Homo sapiens: one gene and its partners. The protein of the gene in region 7 interacts with the protein of the main gene of each other region in a biochemical or structural test. Each region holds a gene or a part of one and is shown on either strand. Other genes may lie near its edges. The genes, in order: FOXO3, YWHAB, WEE1, SMAD4, KPNA1, SIRT4 and SKP2.

Evidence for each region.
Region 1: of the proteins of SKP2 (region 7) and FOXO3, one has a biochemical effect on the other in vitro, tested with the Homo sapiens proteins (one study listed by BioGRID).
Region 2: the proteins of SKP2 (region 7) and YWHAB form a complex in vitro, tested with the Homo sapiens proteins (one study listed by BioGRID).
Region 3: the proteins of SKP2 (region 7) and WEE1 form a complex in vitro, tested with the Homo sapiens proteins (one study listed by BioGRID).
Region 4: the proteins of SKP2 (region 7) and SMAD4 form a complex in vitro, tested with the Homo sapiens proteins (one study listed by BioGRID).
Region 5: the proteins of SKP2 (region 7) and KPNA1 interact in a test that uses a peptide from one of them, tested with the Homo sapiens proteins (one study listed by BioGRID).
Region 6: the proteins of SKP2 (region 7) and SIRT4 form a complex in vitro, tested with the Homo sapiens proteins (one study listed by BioGRID).

Annotation. Positions count from the first base shown.
Region 1 is NC_000006.12:108,665,417-108,668,916, reverse strand, and holds part of FOXO3 (forkhead box protein O3), read right to left. Parts: intron 1-3,500. UniProt on the Homo sapiens protein: Transcriptional activator that recognizes and binds to the DNA sequence 5'-[AG]TAAA[TC]A-3' and regulates different processes, such as apoptosis and autophagy.
Region 2 is NC_000020.11:44,902,705-44,905,868, forward strand, and holds part of YWHAB (14-3-3 protein beta/alpha), read left to right. Parts: intron 1-193; coding exon of another isoform or gene 194-214; exon of another isoform or gene 215-1,288; coding exon 1,289-1,412; intron 1,413-2,263; coding exon 2,264-2,427; intron 2,428-3,164. UniProt on the Homo sapiens protein: Adapter protein implicated in the regulation of a large spectrum of both general and specialized signaling pathways. Binds to a large number of partners, usually by recognition of a phosphoserine or phosphothreonine motif.
Region 3 is NC_000011.10:9,580,170-9,583,669, reverse strand, and holds part of WEE1 (wee1-like protein kinase), read right to left. Parts: intron 2,139-3,500; coding exon 1,992-2,138; intron 1-1,991. UniProt on the Homo sapiens protein: Acts as a negative regulator of entry into mitosis (G2 to M transition) by protecting the nucleus from cytoplasmically activated cyclin B1-complexed CDK1 before the onset of mitosis by mediating phosphorylation of CDK1 on 'Tyr-15'.
Region 4 is NC_000018.10:51,054,213-51,057,712, forward strand, and holds part of SMAD4 (mothers against decapentaplegic homolog 4), read left to right. Parts: intron 1-568; coding exon 569-781; intron 782-3,500. UniProt on the Homo sapiens protein: In muscle physiology, plays a central role in the balance between atrophy and hypertrophy. When recruited by MSTN, promotes atrophy response via phosphorylated SMAD2/4.
Region 5 is NC_000003.12:122,508,440-122,511,939, forward strand, and holds part of KPNA1 (importin subunit alpha-5), read right to left. Parts: intron 1-3,500. UniProt on the Homo sapiens protein: Functions in nuclear protein import as an adapter protein for nuclear receptor KPNB1. Binds specifically and directly to substrates containing either a simple or bipartite NLS motif.
Region 6 is NC_000012.12:120,308,821-120,312,320, forward strand, and holds part of SIRT4 (NAD-dependent protein lipoamidase sirtuin-4, mitochondrial), read left to right. Parts: intron 1-3,500. UniProt on the Homo sapiens protein: Acts as a NAD-dependent protein lipoamidase, biotinylase, deacetylase and ADP-ribosyl transferase. Catalyzes more efficiently removal of lipoyl- and biotinyl- than acetyl-lysine modifications.
Region 7 is NC_000005.10:36,169,111-36,172,610, forward strand, and holds part of SKP2 (S-phase kinase-associated protein 2), read left to right. Parts: intron 1-1,233; coding exon 1,234-1,332; intron 1,333-2,492; coding exon 2,493-2,623; intron 2,624-3,500. UniProt on the Homo sapiens protein: Substrate recognition component of a SCF (SKP1-CUL1-F-box protein) E3 ubiquitin-protein ligase complex which mediates the ubiquitination and subsequent proteasomal degradation of target proteins involved in cell cycle progression, signal transduction and transcription.

The DNA of each region.
Region 1 (3,500 bases), on a different chromosome or scaffold from region 7:
CTGACCTCATGATCCACCCGTCTCGGCCTCCCAAAGTGCTGGGATTACAAGCGTGAGCCACTGCGCCCGGTCTTCAAGTTTAAAATTATACATACTATGCACCTTTAAAACTTGATGAGGCTGTCTTCTTTTGACAAATGAGAAACCTAATATTCTACAAGATTGAGTGATGTGGCAGAGACAAGAAGTGAACCACCCCTCCCCTCTCCATCTGGGCTTTTGCTGGTGGATGCTTCCCAGTCTTTATGTAAAGTACTTTAAACTAAATATTGGGCTGCTCCCTAATGGTGTCTCCAAATGTCAAAAGATGAAGATGAATGAAAGTTTGTGAATGCAGGCATCTTTGATATCAAATTAAGGTGAGACTGAAGCTGGTTTCCCTCAGAGAGGACACATGTCGAACTCAAGAAGGCTTACCGGAAGCTCGAGCTTGCAGCACCACACCAGCTCATGACCATCTCTGCCACCAACTGTAAGCACATGCACCAAGCTTTATGAACACCTGAGAGAACACAGTGCCCTTCACGACCCAGCAGCCAGCCCTCCAAAAAAGTATGGCTATTTTTTCTTTTCCAGATAGACCTAAGGGTCAAAGAATTCTACACGTGGTCTAAAATGAATGACGTGTGAAACACCCAGCCCGCCAGAGAAGCATCTTGCTGCAGCTCCCCAGCAAGACTGCCTGTCAACTGAGCAGACCGCTCCATTAACACAAGGCGGCTCAGATTCAGCATCACATGACCTTCTTCTGTGAGCAAGCCAGGAATTCAGTCTGGAGAAACACTAAGAAGTTAAACCAAGAAAGTTATTAGAGAGCAACTCTTGGGAAGCTGGGACAGTTAATTTGAGAGAAGCAGGGTGTCAGAGTCTGACCTCAGCCTCGTTCTGTGAATTTAGGAGAGTCTTCAATGAAGTGACAGTCACAGTTAAGTTTTAAAGTAAAAAATACACTTCAGGTTGCATGTGCTCCTGGCTGCTGAAAGAACAATGGATTCTAAGCAAAAATGGAAATCCTAAACCAGAAACTAGATCCCCTCACAGCCCCCACTGTCCTTTGGATGGTTCTTTAAATGCTCTGTGGTCATACTGAGCTAGTCTACTTTCAGGAAAATTTGGTGACTTTTCATTTTTAGCTGAAGAAGTTATCTTCTCAAAACAACCTCCCCCAAAATATTCTGAGGCGAAGATGACCCTAAAGCTTCATTAGGATATAACAATGAAATGCATTATCCTCAATGCAGTCATTTATTATCATCACCAAAATCAGAGTTCACCAGATAAACTTTAAAAATCTAAGTATTTAGATCTCCCTTAATTTTCTGTACAATCCTTTAGAATTACACATATACGAGAAAGATCTGCTGTTCAACCAAAAGGGAAACCAACACTTGAAAAATCAGACAAAAACTGATACTACATTGTCTTCTGAACACATATTTTCCAACGAACTAGAAAGTGGCCTCCTTACAATTACACTCAAATTAAAACTTACTTGTGTCTTTAAAAGCCTATTTTTAAAGGAAGACAAACCATTTATTCTTTTAAAAGCCAAACATCTACATTTCTAAAGACAAATCTTCCATATTCTTCTCCTTAAAGGAAGACAAACTAGTCTTCTAAAGGCCAAATATCTACATTTCTGAAGTCAAATCTCCACTAGCCCAAGTTCTGGTATGGAACTGAGCTGGCTGGCATGGAAGTACTACCACCCTACTTAGCTTCCATTACAGTCTTTTCACCATCTCAAGGGCTATTAAATGACTGAAATCAGATATCTGAGTTCCATTAGGGGTCTCTTAGGCCTGAGAAAGTTGAGAGGCTTTAGCATCACAACACTCTTAACATTCCCCTTTCTGCAACCACCCGTGAGCTGGAGTGAGCTCACCATAGGAGACCCTTGTTAAGTCCTTCATCATGGCAGAGGGTTAAACAAGGCTCAAGTTTTTACAGCTTTGAATTCCCTTGCTTTTTACACCACTTAAAGAAGCCTGTAAGTAGCTTGCTGAGACTAAAACAAAACAAAGCAAAAGGGCTGGGGCACGGAACAGAACCTGTTAACATCGAGGTGGCTAGGGGTGCAAACCTGTTGGTAGAAGATCCCAGTGTTCATCTTACTTCTTGAGGAGGAGAGTTTTTAGGGAAAGCTTGTCTATCATCTGCTACTTTGACTCCAGTTCAGGGCACTTCCCTCCCCTCCCCGCTTTTTTTCTAACCAGCTAGAGAGAATAAGGAAGAACTACTATGGGGGTTCAAGCCATTTAAGAAATGAATCTAGGCCGGGCACGGTGGCTCACGCCTGTAATCCCAGCACTTTGGGAGGCTGAGGCGGGCGGATCACAAGGTCAGGAGATCGAGACCATCCTGGTGAACACAGTGAAACCCCATCTCTACTAAAAATTAAAAAAAAAAAAAAATTAGCCAGGCGTGGTGGCGGGCGCCTGTAGTCCCAGCTACTCAGGAGGCTGAGGCAGGAGAATGGCGTGAACCTGGAAGGTGGAGCTTGCAGTGAGCCGAGATCGCGCCACTGTACTCCAGCCTGGGAGACAGAGCAAGACTCCATCTCAAAAAAAAAGAAAAAGAAAAAGAAAAAAAAAGAAATCAACCTAGCTCTGTAACCTTGGGCAAACTACTTAACCTCTCTGGGCTACCTGCTTGCCCATTTGTCAGTATACCTAGTTGCATGGTACATATTTCAGCCTACTGCAGTTTCACATGCTTTAGTGCATTTGATTCTTGTAATAACCCTGTGAAGTAATGGGGGCTATTATCCTCATTTTATAAAACTGGAAGTTGAGACTCAGAGACCTAAGACACAACCATAGTGGTAGCAAGAAAGTGGTAGAAGTGGGCCTGAACCTCAATTCCTGATTTCAATCAAATGCTTTTTCTTACATCACACTGCCTGATCTTTGTGGTTCTGAGAACATTAAAATGCCACAATTGAAAAAATCTCCATCACCATTCACAACCTGTGTCACTCTATGTTTGGAAACTGCTGATATCATTTATAGTTTGGTGAACAAGCAGAAGCACACGAGTAAGTACTCCCTCATACAAACACCTGTGTTTTCAAATTAATTTTTTGGCTTTTTTTTTTTTTTTTTCTAAGAGATAGGTTCTTGCTTTACCACCCAGGATGGAGTGCAGTGGCACGATCATGACTCACTGCAGCCTCAAACTCCTGGGCACAAGGGATTCTCCTGAGAAGCAGGGGCTACAGGTATGTGTCACCACACCCAGCTAATTTTTTAAGTTTTCTGTAGAGACAGAGTCTTGCTATGTTGCCCATGCTGGTCTCTGACTCCTAGCCTCAAGCAATTCCTGCTTCAGTCTCCCATAGTTGTGGGATTATAGGCGTGAGACACTGTGCCTGGCCTCTTACTTTTTTAAAGGTTTAGCTCTTGAGTGCTAGCTAATAAAGATGCTTAGTACTAAGATAAAGAATAATTAACAGATTTTGCTTCTGTTAGAAATATTCATATATGAAAGAGTCTAGAATA
Region 2 (3,164 bases), on a different chromosome or scaffold from region 7:
GTCTACAAAGAATATTAAAACGACTGCCGCCCCCTGCATCTTCTCACTTTGGTTGATTAAATCCCCTTATAACTAAGCTTTGCATTGAGCTTCTCTTTTTATTAGACTCATGGCGTAAGAGTGTCATGACTAAATTTGTTGCCTGTTGGTAATTTGGGGGTTTGTTAATGGTGCACTAATTCCTGAATGTTAGGTACATCTGGTATTCAGATGAAGTATGTCATGCATTCCAAGGGCAAGAAAGTTCCATAATTCATGAAATGTAGACCAACTTTTAAGAGCATCTGAAAGAATGTGAAGAAGAGCTTGGTACTTACTGCCTCTTAACCAGTTTTTCAGGATGCCACATTCTAAAACAACTCTTCGAAAATATTGCTCTGTATACGAAGCTTGGACTCCTTCAGAACTACTTTTGTTGTAAGCATAAATGTTTAAAGGAATTTATTATTAATAGTATTAGCTACTCTTTGAGTGCTTACTACGTGCCAGGCAACGTGTTAAGCGCTTTATGTATGTCAACTTATTTATCATTATAACTACCCTAGAAGATGGCTATACCCTAGAAGATGACCCTTCGTATAGCTGAGGAAAGTGAGGCTCAAAGTGATTAGGTAATTTGTCCAGAGTCATACAGATAATAAGTGGCAGAAGAGGGATTTCTACCCAGGTCAGATTGACTTTAAACTTAGTTCTTGGCAGTTTTGCTCTATTATCACCTTTTTCCTCCTAAGGAAAGATATTTTTTCCCCTTTAATTATAGAAGTAATACCAGTTTGTGGGTTTAAAAATGGTGGGGGGAACAAGTCAGAAGAATATAAATAAGAAAGTAAAAATCACTTCTAATCTTACCACCCAGAGAACCATTATTAACATACTCCTTCCAGGCTTTTCCCTTATATATTTGTGAGCATGTACACAAATGTATCTTAATGTTAAAATAGGATTCTTGTGGTATTTATAATCTGCTTTTTTTCCACTCAGATTTCTTTTGAGAGCCTTTCCATTATCTGTTTAGCTCTGCATCATTTTAAAGGCCTACAAAACATTTCATTATATGGCTATACTTTAATTATCCCCTATGGATGGTCAAAGTGATTTTTAACAGAAGAATACAGGCATCTGCTGTTATGACCTGGGCTAAACAACATTTAGTAGCTTGGATGAAAAATTGGTGTTTTTTTAATCTTCCAAAAAATTATTTAGAAGCAGTAGTGTATATCTTGAATCTCAAACATAGTTTTAACATCTCGTGAATAATTCTAAATTCTTAACAATGTTCATTTTTTAGGAGCTGTTGGACAAATATCTTATTCCCAATGCTACACAACCAGAAAGTAAGGTGTTCTACTTGAAAATGAAAGGAGATTATTTTAGGTATCTTTCTGAAGTGGCATCTGGAGACAACAAACAAAGTAAGTAATATCTTTAAAAAGAAATTCGACCAGTAATGGAGCCAGTCTTCTTTCACAGGGACTTTTTAACGATTTTTGCTTTGTTCGCCATAGACACCAATGTCACAGTACTAAGAATTTAAAAGACCACAGCATTGTGACGAACGGGGTCATGGGCGGGCAAATAAAAATTTATCTGACAGGGAAGTATGGAGGGCATTACAAACCTGGTGCGCAGTGTATTTAAAAAGATCTTATCTTGAGTATTATTTGTTAGCTCTCTTTTTAGCAGTGAACTTTTTATACTTGGTGGTACGAAACTACCCTAGTGATGCATTGCATTTATCACATGTATTACCGTGATGGTGGTAATCTTAACCACACTTTATTAAGTGCTTCTGTGCCAAGTACTTCCGAGTCTCACTTACTCTTCACACAGCCTTACGAGTTAGGTGGCAGGCTGCCCATTTTTCATATAAACTGAGGTTTATGGAGGTTTCTACTTGCCCCAAGCCACAGACCTAGGGAGTAAGAGTTGGGAATTAAAGTTTGGATCTATCGACTCTAAAGCCTGTGATGTTTGCACTAGAATGTATGGTTTTTCACATTCTATATTGTTAAAGGTTATAGCTGTATTTAACTGCTTTAGTAGACTTTGTCATAATTGTTTTCCCCCAAAGCATTTAATATACAACTTGGTTTAGAATAAATATCTAACAAATGTATAATTGAATGGCAGAGACACTGACACTTCATTTGATAGGTCATTGCTCCTGCCCAGTTTGGGACTGAGAAAATAATTTGATAGTTGGTCCAATGTGTGATACCTATGAAAGAACCGAGCCTTTAATATTTTCATCTTTATGTTACAGCCACTGTGTCGAACTCCCAGCAGGCTTACCAGGAAGCATTTGAAATTAGTAAGAAAGAAATGCAGCCTACACACCCAATTCGTCTTGGTCTGGCACTAAATTTCTCAGTCTTTTACTATGAGATTCTAAACTCTCCTGAAAAGGCCTGTAGCCTGGCAAAAACGGTGAGAAAGACCCTTTGTGATATCTAACCATAGCAAAACAGTGCTTGTGTTATTAACTTCATTTTATTCCTGAACATACTCATTGTCTTGGACTTTTTTTGAAAGATTTTCTGGGGGTGGGAGTGTATCTTTTATGAGATAAATACAGATCTGTTACTTTTTTAATTCATTCTCAATACCTTCTGCTGACTTTGTTTGATTACTGTTTTTTGCGGGTGGTTGTAGAAAGTTCCAGGTGAATGTAGTTAGTTGTTTCTTACCAAGCTTTGGGCCTTGGTTATACATTGTCATTCTCATGCCAAGATTTGAGGTTATAGTTGTATAAAAGAAATACACAGCACATTCTTGTTGTGTGTTGGATTACCTTCCATATTCTTCCTTTGGCCTTCTCTACATATTTTTTATAGTCCCTCAACATGCACACAACTTTTTAAAAACATTTTTATTCGGGAAAGGTGCCTTAAAGTTCCGTCACTTAAATCAGATTTAGTGATGTGAGTTTCCAGACATTTTGAGTTTTAGTTTAAATAAATAAATAATTTTAAATAGAAGATTGCTAGAAAAGTCTTTGGTAATTAAAAAATCACACGCGTTTGCCCAGAATGACTGTGCTAGGGTTAGCAGTAATACTGCTTAGTTATTAGGTACAGCAAAGTTCTTACCTTGGAGTTTCTGTCATTGTTGGTTGGTGCTTTGTAAATATGCCTTATACTTCTGCTGGAAACAGCTAACAGACA
Region 3 (3,500 bases), on a different chromosome or scaffold from region 7:
GGACAACTTATTTTGTGATGGTATTTGTAAATTGGAAGGTTTTTTTTTTTTTTTTTTGAGACAGTCTCGCTCTGTCGCCCAGGCTGGAGTGCAGTGGTGCGATCTCAGCTCACTTCAACTTCCTCCTCCCGGGTTCAAGCAATTCTCCTGCCTCAGCCTCCAGAGTAGCTGGGACTACAGGTGCCTGCCACCACACCCAGCTAATTTTTTGTATTTTAGTAGAGACGAGGTTTCACCGTGTTGTCCAGGCTGGTGGTGAACTCCCAAGCTTAGGCAATCCACCCGCCTCAGCCTCCCAAAGTGCTGGGATTACAGGCGTGAGGCACCACGCCCGGCGAATTTTTTTTTTCTTTTTTTGAGACGGAGTCTCACTTTGTTGCCTAGGATGGAGTGCAATGGTGCAATCTCGGCTCACTGCAACCTCCGCCTCCCGGGTTCAAGCAATTCTTCTGCCTCAGCCTCCCGAGTAACTAGGACTATAGGTGCGCACCACTACACCTGGCTAATTTTTGTAATTTTAGTAGAGACGGGGTTTCATCATATTGGCCAGGCTGGTCTCGAACTCCTGCCTCGTGATCTGCCTGCCTTGGCCTGCCAGAGTGCTGGGATTACAGGCGTCAGCCACTGCACCTGGTCTAAATTTGAAGATTTTTAAACTTCACATCCCTTAATATTTTCAACTTTTATACCTTATAAGGGTCTATTATATTTGTCTAACACTTTATATGAGTACAGCTATTCCTTAAGAATTCACATTTACTGCCTTAAATCCAAATATATTTTTGTCTTTTGAAAATAAAAAACATGCTGGGCACGGTGGCTTACGCCTGTAATCTCAGCACTTTGGGAGGCCATGGTGGGCAGATCACAAGGTCAATAGTTCAAGACCAGCTTAGCCAACATGGTGAAACCCGTCTCTACTAAAAATACAAAAAATTAGCCGGGCATGGTGGTGTATGCCTGTAATCCCAGCTACTCGGGAGGCGGAGGCAGGAGAATCGCTTGAACGTGGGAGGCAGAGGTTACAGAGAGCTGAGACTGTGCCACTGCACTCCAGCCTGGGCAACAGAGCGAGACTCCATCTCAAAAAAAGAAAAAAAGAAAGAAGAAACTTTAGTGACTTGTTAACATACGCATATGAAATTCTAGCATATAACTCATAAAGTTGTACAAAATGACTGAAATTCTCACAAATCAACAGGTTTCCAAAGATTAATAAAACCTCACTAAATTCATCTAGCCTAAGATGCTTAACTTGAATCCATAATCCTTAGTTATAACTTCCAATTTATAGGAAATATAGGAGAAAAAGGAACAAGCTAAATGATACAAGAAGCAACTAGTCAAATCCAGAAAAAGGGATAGCTTGCAAGATAAGTGTATATTATTTTTACAAAGCAGAGGATGGGTTCTGAAAAAGAAAAACTGATATAACCAGATGCAATGCATGATCCTTAAGTAGATACTAATTTGAACAAATCAACTATTAAGGACTTGAGTCAACTGGGGAAATTTTAATATGGTCTGGCCTAGTGGAAGAGTGGGGCTTTAAACACAGATTTTTAGTGCCCTCATTAGTATCCCACCTGTAGTTCCTGTAAGATGCAGCAAAAATTTCTGGCTTTTAATAAAAATGAATTTATCTGGGCATGGTGGCACATGCCTATAGTCCCGGCTACTCGGAAGACTGAGGTGGGATGACTGCTTGAGCACGGGATGGGGAAGTTGCAGTGAGCGGAGATGGTGCCACTGCATTCCGGCCTGGGCCACAGAATGAGACACTGTCTCAAAAAAGTTTATCTCAAATTTTGGGGATTAACAAGGGAAGAGATGAATAGAAATCATAAAACAATATTGGTAAGTGGATCTAAGGCCTTTTAAAACTAACAATGAGAAAACAGAAGATATATATTTTTTCAATGTTGTCATAATGAAGTAATTTATTCTCTATAACCCCAAAGAACACAGGTCAGAAGATCTGCAATACTTACTAGGTTTTATATCCATGTGAACCAAAGACATTGAATGAATATACCTCAAGCCTCGGCCAACTTGCAAAAGGAGATCCTTCAACTCTGCTTCTTTAAAGTAACTCATGATTCTGTAGTTTTCACTTATAGCATCAGCTAAACTTCCACCTAACAAAGATAGAAAATATTAGCATTTTCTTCTTTCTGAAATATTTTCTTTCTTCCATCTTTACCAAATGAGTCTCAACCAACCAATCTCAACCAAGAAAGTGTTATTTTATAGGACCTTCTCCCTTCAACCTGCTTGTGAAATCAAAATTTTATTGTTTTTTCAATAGGTAATACATTTGCATGGGTACAAAATAAAATGTAAAGTCTCTCTCTCAATCATACACCTCAGCAATCCACCTGTTTCTTTCTCAGAGTAAACCAGTATTATCAGGTTGGCTTTTTTTTTGTTTGTTTTTGTTTTTAATTTATAAGAGACAGGGTCTATCTATGTTGCCCAGCTGGAATCCAGTGGCTATTCACAGGCTTGATCCCACTACTTATCAGCATAGGAGTTTTGACTTGTGCTGTTTCCAACTTAGGCCAGTTTACCCCTCTTTAGGCAACCTGGTGGTGCCCCACTCCACAGAGGTCACCATACTGATGCTCAACTTAGATCGGCATAGATCGGCATAGATGCTCAACATAGATCGGCACTACAGCCTAGAATTCCCAAACCCAAATTCAAATTCCCTGCTTCAGACTCCCAAGCAGCTGGGACTACAGGCACTGCCACCACGCCCAGCTCAGGTCTATGTATTCTTTTCAACTTTTTGCATAAATAACAGCATATGTTCATTATCTTAAAGATCACTCTATACCAATATACAAAGACAACCCATTTCTTCTTGTCTTTATAGAATTCCATTGTATAATTGAGTAGAAATGCATTTATTGGCTGGGCACAGTGGCTCACGCCTGTAATCCCAGCACTATGGGAGGCCGAGGCAGGTAGATCACGAGGTCAGGAGTTCGAGACCATGCAGGCCAACATGGCGAAACCCCGTTTCTACTAAAAATACAAAAATTAGCTGGGTGTGGTGGCGTGCACCTGTAATCCCAGCTACTCAGAAGGCAGGAGAATTGCTTGAACCTGGGAGGCGGAGGTTGCAGTGAGCCGATATCGGGCCATTGCACTCCAGCCTGGTGGCAGAGTGAGACTCAGTCCCCCGAAAAAAAAAAAAAAAAAGAAAGAAAGAAAGAAATGCATTTATCAGTCCCTCATTTGATGGACATTTTAAAATTATTTCCAAGCCTTTGCTATTACATACTATGGCCTAATAAATAACCTTGTACATTGGTAATTTCACGTACATTTAGTATATCACCTAGAAGCCAAATTGCTGGGTTAAAGGGTATGCACATTTGTAATATATGGAGATGGTGTGTTTTACACACACACACACACACACACACACACTCTTCTCCACAGAGAAGGCTGTACCAATATATATGCCCATTGTCAATGCATGAGCATACCTG
Region 4 (3,500 bases), on a different chromosome or scaffold from region 7:
TTTCCGTTTGGTTCTAAACCTATAGGGGACATTACATTCAGTACACTTCATTTTTAAAGAATATGTTGCTTAACAATAATTCTAGATCCTGGGATTGGATATCTATCAGATCCCACTCATATCTCCACAGTGTGAAATTAACAAAAAGATATAGTTAAATACTCAGTCTCTATTTAGACCGAATAATTGTTTTTCTCAGCTGGACACATTTTCCAGCCATTCGGTTTTTGCCTGCCTTATGTATTTAGGTGATTATTCTTCTAGGTTTATCAAGAAACTGAGGAGTACCTTTTTAGGATTGTTGCTGGAGGCTGTTGAAACATAGACTAGCTTCAAATTTGAGAGTCAGATTGATTGATAAAATATATCTCATGCTGTTACCGCTGAATAAATGACTTTTGCTGGTAAAGTAGTATGCTTTTAAAATAATATGAAAAAATTCTGAATTAAGGTTAGTAATTTACACTGTAATTGATTTTAGGTGTTATTATATTACTTGCTAATAAGATTTTTTTTTCTGGGAATAGAAGCTTATAAAAATTTAAAATATGTTTAATTTTCTATATAGCTCCATCAAGTATGATGGTGAAGGATGAATATGTGCATGACTTTGAGGGACAGCCATCGTTGTCCACTGAAGGACATTCAATTCAAACCATCCAGCATCCACCAAGTAATCGTGCATCGACAGAGACATACAGCACCCCAGCTCTGTTAGCCCCATCTGAGTCTAATGCTACCAGCACTGCCAACTTTCCCAACATTCCTGTGGCTTCCACAAGTGAGTTCTAGAATCAGATGTAGTCAGCAAGTTGAGTTTTCCTAATCATTGCTTATTTATGTGTAGTCACTTGGGGGGAAACTCCAAGTAAGTAAACATTAAAAGTAACTGTAGTATCTTTCATAGGTAAACAGGTATTAAACAGGTATGCACAATCACTTGGAATTTAAGTAATGGCTTTGATTATAATATTGATTTAAATTAATGATCTGATTTATACTTTACTATTACATGTAGCAGTAAGTAGCCTCTTAAGCTCCCAGATATATTTTGGAGAAATATTTAAATAATTAACAAGTAGTTTTGATCCAAGATGTTTATGAAGGTCTGTGTTAATGGAATTGCAACCTTTCTTTTAATGCGGTGTTCTTATTTTGGTTTTTCTGGGACAATATTACCTTATAGTAGTTGTCTGATTTTCTCACTGTGCAAAGGGATCTTGACAAATTTGTTATATATTGCTCAAGATAGACATTAATTAAGTCAATTTTGATATAAGCTAACTTCTATATCTCTTTTTAAAATATATGTGTAATTAAAAAAAAAAAGTGTTTCAGAAAGATCCTTCTTTTCTGCCATGTCATAGGAGGGAGAGGGGCTGCTAGGTTCAGGTTTTTGGGGGCATGATCATATGACCTGGTTCTGTTACTTATTTTCACAGTAACCAAAGGTTTGATAGTTTGCTGCTTGGCAAATGAAGTAGCTTTTTTTTCATTTTTTTTTTTTCAATTAATCATAGAGCATTGTCTTGGCATGTGTATGGTGTTAGTTGCATGCAGTTGCTAAAGGAATTTATGTAAACCCACATCAGAATAGATTTTTGACAGCTCTGGGCTAATACTGTGTTAGTTGCTACCGAAAGTACCATTATTGTATTTGCTTTACTATCAGATTAGATTCAACATAGAAATTTTGATCTTTGGAATAAATGGGGGACTGATTTCTGTAATTGTGAGTTTTCAAGTGAAGTATACCAGAATTTCCCCTTTAATTCATTACACCACTTCAAAGCAACATGTTTTTGGTTTGCTATCTAAGAGATGACAGTCTCACTATAGGCAGCATATTCTAAATGGGTCATATAGGTTAAGCACTTGAGAACCCAGTTCCTTAATCACTTGGTGCTTCTATTATCTGTCTACTTTTTATTTACCAAATTAGGAATATGGTTGACAAACAGTGGGTAGTGATAGAAAATAAAAGAAGGTACATTATAGCCACTTGAACGTAGATTAGTGCTAGAGCACAGCTACCTACTTCTGTTTATATTATCTGGAGATTGAATTTCTGTGCCTTTGTCAATGCTTACTAAAGTGACTTCATTTTGACTGTGTTGTTTCCTGAGGTTGAATCCTATTCAAAGATTAGAAAAAGTGATAGAAATGAAATGCAGCTAATTTTATCCTGGTATTTATTGGGTAGATTTTAATAATCGAATACCGTAAATACTGTAAGTTTTAGAACTTGTGTCAAAATGTTCCCTTATGTGGTGGCATGCGCCTGTAGTCCCAGCTGCTCCGGGGGCTGAGGCAGGAGAAATGGCGTGAACCCGGGAGGCGGAGCTTGCAGTGAGCAGAGAGCGAGTCACTGCACTCCAGCCTGGGCGACACAGCGAGACTCCATCTCCAAAAAAAAAAAAAAAAAAAAAAAAGAGGGTTCCCTTAGGTCTCAAAAAGTATATTGATGAAAAGAAGTTGAACTAAAATAGAAGATTTGAAAGGCTATTTTACGTGAGCTGATTTAGTCGTATTGTTTAACTTTATTTTACATACTTAGAATTGTATAAGGGAAGTATTCAGTATGGATAACTACAGTGAGTCACTTTACAATTTATGTTCTTTTGACACCTGAATATTTTAAGAATTTCCTTTTAAATACCTGTAAATTAAAATAATTTATCCTGTGTAGTTAATGACAATTTTTGTAAGTTAGCTAAGAGTATTGCCTGTAGAATTGTTAAAAATATGAACAAAACCATAATTAACCTTTAAAGATAACTTGCAGAATCTGGGGGATGAGTAGGAAGGGAGGTTGCTAAAATGTCATTTTTACAGATAAATAATTTGGGGAGTATTGAAATATTCTCTTTAGCTTTTGGTTTTGTAATTCTTAGCTTTAAGGAAATGTGATATGTAAAGAAAAGAAAAATATTCCTTTTCTTTGATACTTTGAGCAATGGTGACATGTTACTCTCTTCCATCTGATTATACTCCCATTTAGAAAAGAATGAGGTGATGCCAGTTATAAATAATTATAACTTTAGTGCTTTCCAAATAGGATTAACAGTCGAGTTAATTAATGCTCTTTAAGAAACCAAATTTCCACTTTAAAAAAAAAGCCTTAAAAATGTAGGACAGTAAGCAATATCATAGGATGGTTTTTGAATAGAATACAAGCCAAGAGAAGCTTGATTCTCTTGGTATATTACATACAGAGAGGGCAATTAATTTCTTGTACATCTGGGAATATGATGGTGTTCTTGAAAAGAAATGATTCTTGGTTTATAAAAGCTCTTGAAAAAATTTGAAAGTAGACTGATAGTTTTTTTGTTTGTTTTTAACCAGTAAATGGTATATTGATTGGACAGCAGAGCTAGATCTTTTTAACTTCCTCATCTTCACTATCACATCCTATTTAAAATAATTTTCTGCTCTGCTTTTCTCTGTCAAACCCTAGCATTCTGCCATTACTAGTATCAGTGCTGATAGTGATTAATTTT
Region 5 (3,500 bases), on a different chromosome or scaffold from region 7:
CCAGATTTCCTCCTCCACTCTTCACAACCAGACAACCATCCTTCAGTAATCCCTTCAAATGGGTGCTCCAATGCAGGTGAGGGTGGGGGTGAGGTGCCTTATTGATAACAGAATTACATGAGCACAACAGTAAAAACCCAAGCTCCTTTTCTAAAATGAGTTCTCAAAACATGGCAGCCAGACACACATTCTCCTGGCAAGAGACTGGAGACTCTCAGGGAAACTGACTAGCCCAAGAGAAACAAACCTATGAGTATATGCCCTCCACCCACCACAAAAAAAATGGCCACCAGCTACTCTCTTCACCCTTCAACAAGCCACACTTAATAGAGCTTCCAATTCAGTTTTTGGCACTTCATTCTTAAATATGAATGGACAGCCACAAGACTACCAGACATCTGGGGAAAGCCTCAATAAAGAAAAGACAACAATGGTAACAAAATTTTTAAAACTATCATTAATATCCCCAGAAAGAATACAGCATCTATGAAACAACACAAATATACTATAAAATAAGAATGAGAGGCTGGACGCGGTAGCTCACGCCTGTAATCCCAGCACTTTGGGAAGCCGAGGAGGGTGGATCACTTGAGGTCAGGAGTTCAAGACCAGCCTGGCCAACATGGTGAAACCCCGTATCTACTAAAAATACAAAAATTAGCCAGGCGTAGTGGCGGGCCCCTGTAAACCCAGCTACTCGTGAGGCTGAGTCAGAACAATGGCTTAAGCCCAGGAGGCAGAGGTTGCGGTGAGCCAAGATCATGCCACTGCACTCACTTGGGCAACTGAACAAGACTCTCTATCAAACAAAAAAAAAAAAAAGAAAGATAAAACCAAGTAAAGGCAAACATGTGAGCAAAAAAGAACTCTCAAGCACTCAAGTAGGCACATACACTAATTCTCCCACTCTATGCCCAAGGAATCACAATCTTGGGTATATATCCTAGAGAACTTCTATACAGGTCTATAATAATGTACAAGAGTATATATAACACAGGGTATTTGAAATAGCAGAAAGGCAACTCAGGGATCAATTCCTAGGGAATGAAAAGTAAAATGTGGTAGATCTGCATTACAGAATTCTACATTAGACACAACTATACATACTTACAACAAAACAGAAAGATCCCCAAATCAATGTTGAATAAAAAAGAAAAAGACCTTTGCAAGGTCTATAACACAATACCTAAACATACACAGCTCCACTACATATTTTACAATGTTTCATATATAATCAAGGAATGTACCAACCACAATGTTATACAAAGAGGTAACAGAAGTAGGGCTCAGAAATTTAAGATAAAAATTTAAAGGACCTTGTACGATCTGATGTGTGACAAGAACTGAGAAGCATAATTCATTCTAAAATTCTTTTTGCCTAACATCCAAATAATAACAAAAACTTTCGAGAACTAAAGGACATGAACTCCCAGCTTATAAAGGTCCATGGAATGCCCTTAAACAAAAAAATACCCATACCTAGACACATCATCATGGAATTTTGAGGGTTAAAAATATCCTAAAAGCTTCTAGAGATTGGGGTAAAGGAAGATCACATACAAACAAAGAATCAGATTGGCTTTGGATTTCAAGAGTAACCCTGGAAGAAAGAAAACAATAGAACTATGACTTGCAAACTTGAAGTAGAAGTTACTTTCAACTCAGAATTTTATACCCAGACAAATTACTGATCAAATGCGAAGGAAGAATAAAGATTTTTTTCAGTCATGTAAGATGTCAGGAAGTTTTTGTTTTCCATGTATCCTTTCTCAGAAAGCTACTAAAAAATGTACTCCAAGGAAATAAGTAAACCAAGAAAGAAAATACAGGAAACAGTAAACAGGGGAACCAGTACAAAAGAGGGCAAAGAAGTTTAAGGATGATGAAAAGAGAAGTCCCTGGATAACAACTATGAAATAGGCCTAGAAAGTAACCAGTCCTAATTGCATTAAGAGGTTCCAGGTTAGCTGTCTCAGGAAATGAAGCAAACAACAACAAAAAATACTAACTTGTAGAAAAACAAAAATTTATTAAGAGAAGAAATGATATCACAGTACTCTACATGGGTCAGCTGTGAACATTTATAGAGTTACAATATTGTAAACACTAAATATTGGTTTAGTAGACACACCTGTGATAACTATATTTGGAGGATGGTAGAGACAGTGTGTGCATATGGCAGGTGAGGTGAATATATATGTGAAACACTAAGGAACATCTTGCTTAGACGAAAGCCAATAATATCTATAATTGCTATATCATGATATAGCAATAAAAGCAAGTCACTGTATTTATAAATATGAAAGCAAACACAAGAGGAAACAGCTAGAAGAAAGAAAATGGTAGCTTTTCAAGTGCAGAGGCTGGGACAGGGAACAGCTGCTTTTCAGGTATTCTAATTCCAAAATTTTATTTTTTTAATGTTGATAAAACAAGGAACTTGAACAATCTCACGACGGTTATATTAGATCTTCAGTATTATTTCATGGTGTTAAACTACATCTAGTTTGTTCTGCCAAAGAGACTGAACGGCTAAAACCAATCTTTAACGATCAATGTGAACACAGTACAAACAGCCCTATTTGAATCCCAACTCCACTACTTTGTGAAGTAAGGCGAGTTACCCAATCACCTTGCACACGTAATCACCTCCTCAAAATGGTTTTGCAAGAACAAGTAAGTGAAAGCACCTGATGCAGAACCTGACCCATCAATAGATGTCAGAGTACTTTCAGCGGGTCTTTCTGTTCCCTAGCTGACCCCAAGCTGCCTATTCTGACCCCAAGCTGCCTATTCTGACCCCAACCTGCCTTGTTGCTCACAGAGTATATAGGCACTCATGGACTCAGCACATATCCCTCCTCACGCTGGAAAAACAATCATGATGAGTAAGCAGACTTATCTTTGTATATGAAGGGCAGCATTATTCTTGTTAATATGAAGGAGATTATCTCCATTATCCACATTCTGGATTACTGCCTGCTTTCAAGAACTGTCCCAATTAGTCTACAACACTTGGACAGAACCATTTTTTCATGTTGTTTTGTAGGTTTGTAACATCTTTAAAAAAAAGAAAGAAAGAAACATACATTCCCACAGTCTTCATCCCTACTCTTCCAATGTACAACCTCAAAATTTTCTAATGCAGGCCCTATCTGGCCCTCAGTTGGCCTCAGGCCATCTCCTGCTTACTGCAGCAAAAGACAGAAATCAGCCCAAATCAGCTAATTTAACTGTTTACCATTTCCAGTGTTTTCTTCCCTATTATGGCTAAATTCATAACACCATGCAAAGTACAAAGATACCTTAAAACAAAACAAGGAGTTATCTTTATCACTAGGTCAGTCATCTTTACTTGCAAGACCAATCAAAGGTCTTAACTGATTTTATACACAGTACTCATACATCTAAAAACAATCTGGTAGACTTAAAAGCACAGACATCATAAATCATTAAAACTCTATTTTATCATTAATTCAACAAACACTGTGCTAAAACAC
Region 6 (3,500 bases), on a different chromosome or scaffold from region 7:
TAGACTAAGGTGGTATCCAGGGAATTTGAGTTAATGATGCTTATGGATTCATTAAAACAATTTTTTCCGCCGGGCGTGGTGGCTCATGCCTGTCATCTCAGCACTTTGGGATGCCGAAGCGGGTGGATAACCTGAGGTCGGGAGTCAAGACCAGCCTGACCAACATGGAGAAACCCTGTCACTACTAAAAGTACAAGAACAACAAAAAATTAGCCGGGCATGGTGGCACATGCCTGTAATCCCAGCTACTCGGGAGGCTGAGGCAGGAGAATCGCTTGAACCTGGGAGGCGGAGGTTGCGGTGAGCCAAGACTGTTGTGCCATTGCCCTCCAGCCTGGGCGACAAGAGTGAAACTCTGTCTCAAAAAAAACTCACAATTTTTTTCATGAAGAAAATCTGTTCTTTTAATAATGAAAATTTCAAACTTCACAAAAGTAAAGAGAATTGTATAATGAATTCTCATATACCATCACCCAGATTCCAAGGTTTTATCAAGATTTTGTCATGTCTACTTTATCCATTCTGTCTCTTCTTAAGCATTTTAAAACAATCCAGGACTTCTTGACATTTCACAGGGGCCTTTTTTTCTTTTCTTTTTTTTTTTTTTTTGAGACAGAGTCTCACTCTGTCGCCTAGGCTGGAGAGCAGTGGTGAGATCTTGGCTCACTGCAACCTCCACCTCCCGGGTTCAACCGATTCTCCTGCCTCAGCCTCCTGAGTAGCTGGGATTACAGGCATGCACCACCATGCCCGGCTAATTTTTGTATTTTTGGTAGAGACTGGGTTTCACCGTGTTGGGCCAGGCTGGTCTCAAACTCCTGACCTCAGGTGATCTGCCTGCCTTGGCCTCCCAAAGTGCTGGGATTACAGGCATGAGCCACTGTGCCCGCTTTCTTTTTTTTTTTTTTTTTTTGAGATGAAGTCTTGCTCTGTCACCTAGGCTGGAGTACAATGGCATGATCTTGGCTCACTGTAACCTCTACATCCTGGGTTCAAGCAATTCTCCTGTCTCAACCTCCTGAGTAGCTGGAATTACAGGTGTGCACCACCACACCCGGCTAATTTTTTTGTATTTTTGTAGAGACAGGGTATCACCATGTTGGCCAGGCGGGTCTCAAACTCCTGACCTCAACTGATCCACCCATCTTGGCCTCCCAAATTGCTGGGATTACAGGTGTGAGTCACCGTGCCCGGCCTGGCCTTTTTTTCTTTTTTAGACAGGGTCTGGTTCTGACACCCAGGCTAGAGTGCAATGGTGCCATCATAACTCCCTGTAACCTAGAACTCCTGGGTAATTAGAACTCCAGCTAATTAAAAAATTTTTTTTGGCTAGGCGTGGTGGCTCACGTCTGTAGTCTCAGCACTTTGGGAGGCCGAGGTGGGCAGATCACAAAAATTAGCTGGGCGTGGTGGCAGGCGCCTGTAATCCCAGCTGCTCGGGAGGCTGAGGCAGGAGAATCGCTTAAGCCCAGGAGGCGGAGGTTGCAGTGAGCCGAGATCGCGCCATTGCACTCCAGCCTGGGCGACAGAGCAAGACCCCGTCTCAAAAAACAAAGACAAGCCAAAAAAATTTTTTTTGTAGAGAGAGCGTCTTGCTGTCTACCCAGACTGGTCTGGAACTCCTGAGCTCAAGCGATTCTCTTGCTTTACGCTCCCAAAGTGCTGGGATTACAAGGTGTGAGCCACCATGCCTGGCCACAGGGGTTCTTTTAAGAGAAGAAAATCAACATAATCTGATGGCTGACTAGAACTAAAAGGAGAAAAATGAGGCTGGTTGTGGTGGCTCACACCTGTAGTCCCAGCACTTTGGAAGACTAAGGCAGGAGGATTGCTTGAGCCTAGGAGTTCGAGGCTGCAGTGAGCTATGATCATGCCACTGCACTCCAGGTAAGAGCCACCACGCCTGGCCAAGACCCTGTCTCTTTTTTTTTTTTGAGACGGAGTCTCGCTCGTTGCCCAGGCTGGAGTGCAGTGGTGCTATCTCGGCTCACTGCAAGCTCCGCCTCCCGGGTTCACGCCATTCTCCTGCCTCAGCCTCCCGAGTAGCTGGGACTACAGGCGCCCGCCACCACGGCCGGCTAATTTTTTGTATTTTTAGTAGAGATGGGGTTTCACCGTGTTAGCCAGGATGGTCTCGATCTCCTGACCTCGTGATCCGCCCGCCTCGGCCTCCCAAAGTGTTGGGATTACAGGCGTGAGCCACCACGCCCAGCCTGACCCTGTCTCTTAAAAAAAAAAAAAAAAAAAAAAAAAATAGGCCGGGCGCAGTGGCTCATGCCTGTAATCCCAGCATTTTGGGAGGCCAAGGCGGGCAGACCACCTGAGGTCAAGAGTTCGAGACCAGCCTCAACATGGAGAAACCCCGTCTCTACTAAAAATACAAAATTAGCCGGGCGTGGTGGTGCATGCCTGTAATCCCAGCTACTCGGGAGGCTGAGGCAGGAGAATTGCTTGAACCTGGGAGGCAGAGGTTGCGGTGAGCCAAGATCGCGCCATTGCACTCCAGCCTGGGCAACAAGAGTGAAACTCCGTCTCAAAAAAATAAAAAATAAAATAAAAAAATAAAAACAGACACAAAGTGCTCTCCCTCACTGGCTCAAGCTCTGGTGATTGGAGAGGTGAGAAGGGGGGCCAGGTGCAGTGGCTCACACCTGTAATCCCAGCACTTTGGGAGGCCAAGGCAGGCGGATCACCTGAGGTCGGGAGTTTGAGACCAGCCTTACCAACATGGAGAAACCCCGTCTCTACTAAAAATACAAAAAAAATTAGTCGGGTGTGGTAGAGCCTGCCTGTAATCCCGGCTACTCAGGAGGCTGAGGCAGGAGAATCGCTTGAGACCAGGAGGTGGAGGTTGCGGTGAGCCAAGATCATGCCATTGCACTCCAACCTGGGCAATGAGAGTGAAACTTGCTCTCAAAAAAAAAAAAAAAAAAAAAAAAAAAAAGAGGTGAGAAGAGAACCAGGAGACACTGTGTCCTGGAAACCAAGAAGGAGAAGCATTTTAGAAGGAATGGTAATAGACAGTGGCAAATTCAGCAGATGAGCAAGGGAAAGTATAGAGGGAAAAACGCAGGTTTGGGCATTAAGGAAATCAGCAGGCAAGGCATTTGCAGTCATGTTAAGGATAAAAGTGAGCTATAGCAGAAGGTTAGGAAGGAGTGTATAGGAAGGAAATTGATGGGCTGGGCGCAGTGGCTCACACCTGTAATCCCAGCACTTTGGGAGGCCAAGGAGGGAGGATCACTTGAGGCCAGGAGTTTGAGACCAGCCTGGGCGACACAGTGAAACACCGTCTCTACCAAAACTACAAAAATTAGCTGGGCGAGATGGCGCGTGTTTGTAGTGCAGTCCCTGCCACTCAGGAGGATGAGGTGGGAGGATAACCTGAGCCCAGGAGGTTGAGGCTGCAGTGAGCTGAGATCGTGCCACTGCATTCCAGCCTGGGCAACAGCCAGACCCTGTCTCCAAAAATAAAAAAAATAAAATAGAAAGTATGGCTA
Region 7 (3,500 bases):
CGCCTTGCTGTAAGAAGAATGGACTGGACTCTTCCATTAAGAGGGAAGCATGGGCCAGGTGTGGTGGCTCACACCTGTAATCCCAGCACTTTGGGAGGCTAAGGTGGGCAGATCACCTGAGGTTGGGAGTTTGAGACCAGCCTGGCCAACATGGTGAAATCCTGTCTCTACTAAAAATACAAAAATTAGCTGGGTGTGGTGGCAGGCACCTGTAATCCCAGCTACTCAGGAGGCTGAGGCAGGAGAATCGCTTGAACCCGGGAGGCGGAGGTTGCCATGAGCTGAGACCACAACATTGCACTCCAGCCTAGGTGACAAGAGCAAAACTCCATCTGAAAAAAAAATAAAAAAAGGGAAGGATGGTGGAGAGAGTTGTTCTGAGAATGGAAGGAACAAGTCAAGAGTTGAAATTTAGGAAATTAACTTGCCAGGTACCATGGAGGGTCCATCGAGGATAGAAGAAGCTAGAGTAGTTAAGGATACTGCTGTGTTCGTTCAAGTGAGAAAAGGTGAAGTCTGATATAAAACAGATAGCAGTAATAGCAGCTAATGTTTTGGGGCATGTATTATGTGCCAGATAGTGAATTTTGTAAATGCATTTTCATTTAATTCTGACAGCAACCCTATGAAGTGTGATCTTGTTTCCTTTTTATAGTTGTGGAAACTGAGACACAGGGAGACTGAGTAAGTCTTTTCCAGGGTCACATTGTTAGTAGGTGGCTGAACCAACATGTGAACCTAGTGATACAATATTCCAGAATTCTTACTCTTAATCACTAAGTTTTACTAACACAGGGCATTTGGGGATGTATTAGAGAAGATGGCAAATTTGAGAGATGTATAATCAAAAGAACCTGGTGATTTTACAAGTAGATGTTTGCAAGCTAATTCTAATTATGGGTGAAATGGATATATGTTTATTCCATTGTCTTTTTAATTCAAAAAGTACATTGATTGATATTCTTGTGTATTTGCTTCATAGTAAGTCTTTTATTACATTATATCATTTAATCTTCTTAATAACTCTGCCAAGAAGTTTGATAATACCATTTCACAAATGAGTAAACTGAGGCAAATTATCCTGTTTGATGTCTGAGAGATAGTGATATACATTTTAAACTCACTGACTCAAAGACCTGTGAGCTTAACTACACTCGCCTGCTTTCATCTAAATGTTGTTGATGAATAGTGTCTTACTGGTCTTTTTCTTCTGACGTTTTTCTCTTTTTCCAGTACTCTCGCAAAAAACTCAAATTTAGTGCGACTTAACCTTTCTGGGTGTTCTGGATTCTCTGAATTTGCCCTGCAGACTTTGCTAAGCAGCTGTTCCAGGTATGAAAGATGTGAGACTTGATTATAGACTCTTATGTCAAACGTAAAATTATCCCTCACATCTGTATAAAATGGGATGAACTTTTTGAGCTTTTTGTACTTTCCAGGCTCTTGATTTGGTGAATGCAAAATCTTTTGCCCTCCTAACTTTCTGTCCAAACTCAGGAGCCAAGTCAATTGAGTTTGCAAGTGATACTTGTATAGTGATCTCTTTTTTGTTTATTTGGAACTGTTAAAATAAGGGAAGTGTAGTAGTGTCTATCAACAGTATGGTTGTAAGAAATTTGCTCACACTTAACTGTACATTCAGGTTTTTTCCCCTATGGTATCTGTAGACCTAACTTACAATTTTTTATCAAATTTGGTGTTTTATAAATATAGACCGTAAATTTGGGCAATTCTATTAACAATATCTTTCATAATAATGTCAGCACATAAAGGGTACAGAGTTACAGATATTGCTAAGTGAGGGGAGTACATGCTTTTTGGAATACACAGTACTAGGCATATGTGTGTTTTTTAAAAATATCCCTTGGTCTCCATGGTACAGCATTTGAATCTGTGTCTTGTTAATGGTCCATTTAAAATAGATTGCCTCTGGATATGCGTGTTATCAGTGAGATCAAATGTATAGCCCTATATTTAGTCAGCAGTGCCAGAAGTGGGGAGTGGGGATTAATGGTTGTATTTTGTCTCTGAAACCCTCGTTTTTGCTCAGTTAGCAGAAGCACAGTAAGACGAAGTGGCTTTTTGCAATATCAGCATCTCTTTATTAGGAATCCTCAGTGCAATCCATCAATTGCGTAAAACATCCTGAGTGATTGTTCAGTCTGTGTTGGGTGGTTGGTAGTTTGAGAAAGCAAACATAAAAGACTGGCATTTCTACCTGCAGTACTGGAATAAGGTTTGAGCCATCAGGTGCTTCTCTCCATTTCGAGGAGGAGGCACATTCACTAAGGCCCTTCTGATCCCCTGGCAACTTTCAGGGGCAAACAGGGTATACTTAGGTGACTAAAGGTAGCTACTGTTAGAGAAGCAGGTGTTCTGTGCATGAAATGATAAGGAATCCATGGTTTTATATTTTCTTTGTTTGCAGTTTGAGGCAAACTCATTCCCGTGTGATGGTTTCATATTTTGTTTATTACCCCTCTTTTGTGCAGACTGGATGAGCTGAACCTCTCCTGGTGTTTTGATTTCACTGAAAAGCATGTACAGGTGGCTGTTGCGCATGTGTCAGAGACCATCACCCAGCTGAATCTTAGCGGCTACAGAAAGAATCTCCAGAAATCAGGTTAGAGCTTCCAAGCCTGGACCACTGAGGCCTTCACAACATAATAGATGAGATTCATTGAGCTTCTCCTAATCATTCCTCCACATAAGTTTTCTCATTTAATCCAGTGCATGTGTTAGTCCCCTTTTTCAGATGAGGTAGCTGCTAATCAGAATGGTTAGGTAAAGGTAAACAGCTAGTGAGCTAGAGCCAAGGTTTGAATTCAGGATCTAACAGTAGAAACCTTTACACTTGAAAACAATGTATTTTTAAGCAGAAAAACTTTTAATCAACTAAATGGTTAGGTAAACCCCAACATAAAAATACATAAATGTAGCATTTGATTAGTATTAAGTAGTGGTTGTTCATTAGGGGCTATTTTGTCTGTACGGGGACATTTGTCAATGTCTGGAGACATTTTTTATTGTCACAGCTGTAGGAGTGCTGATGGTCTCTCATGGGCGGAAGCCAGGATGCTGGTGGACGGTGTATAGGATGGAGAATAGCATGCACAATAATCTGGTCCAAACATCAGTTCCAAGGTTGAAAAACTATTATAAACTCTGTTAATAAGTTCATATTTATGACTTTTACTTTTTATTCAGTCCAAGAGGGCAACGAGGATTTTTAGATGAAAACAGGCATTAGAAGTCAAAGGTAGCAGGGAGCAGTCTTTAAAAACCTTAATATTCAGTTACGCTTTATTTTACTTGTATGTTAATGAGAAAATCTTGATTTGCAAAGATAAGTGATTACAAATGGCAAGTTTTTTAAATGGCTTCACCGTCTCAGGCCAACATTCAGTTTGTGGGCTCTACAAAACCTAGTTAAACCAGCAACACACATCAACCATATCTTGATGTTAGTACTAGCTTATTTGAGTGTGTTTTGTTTATTA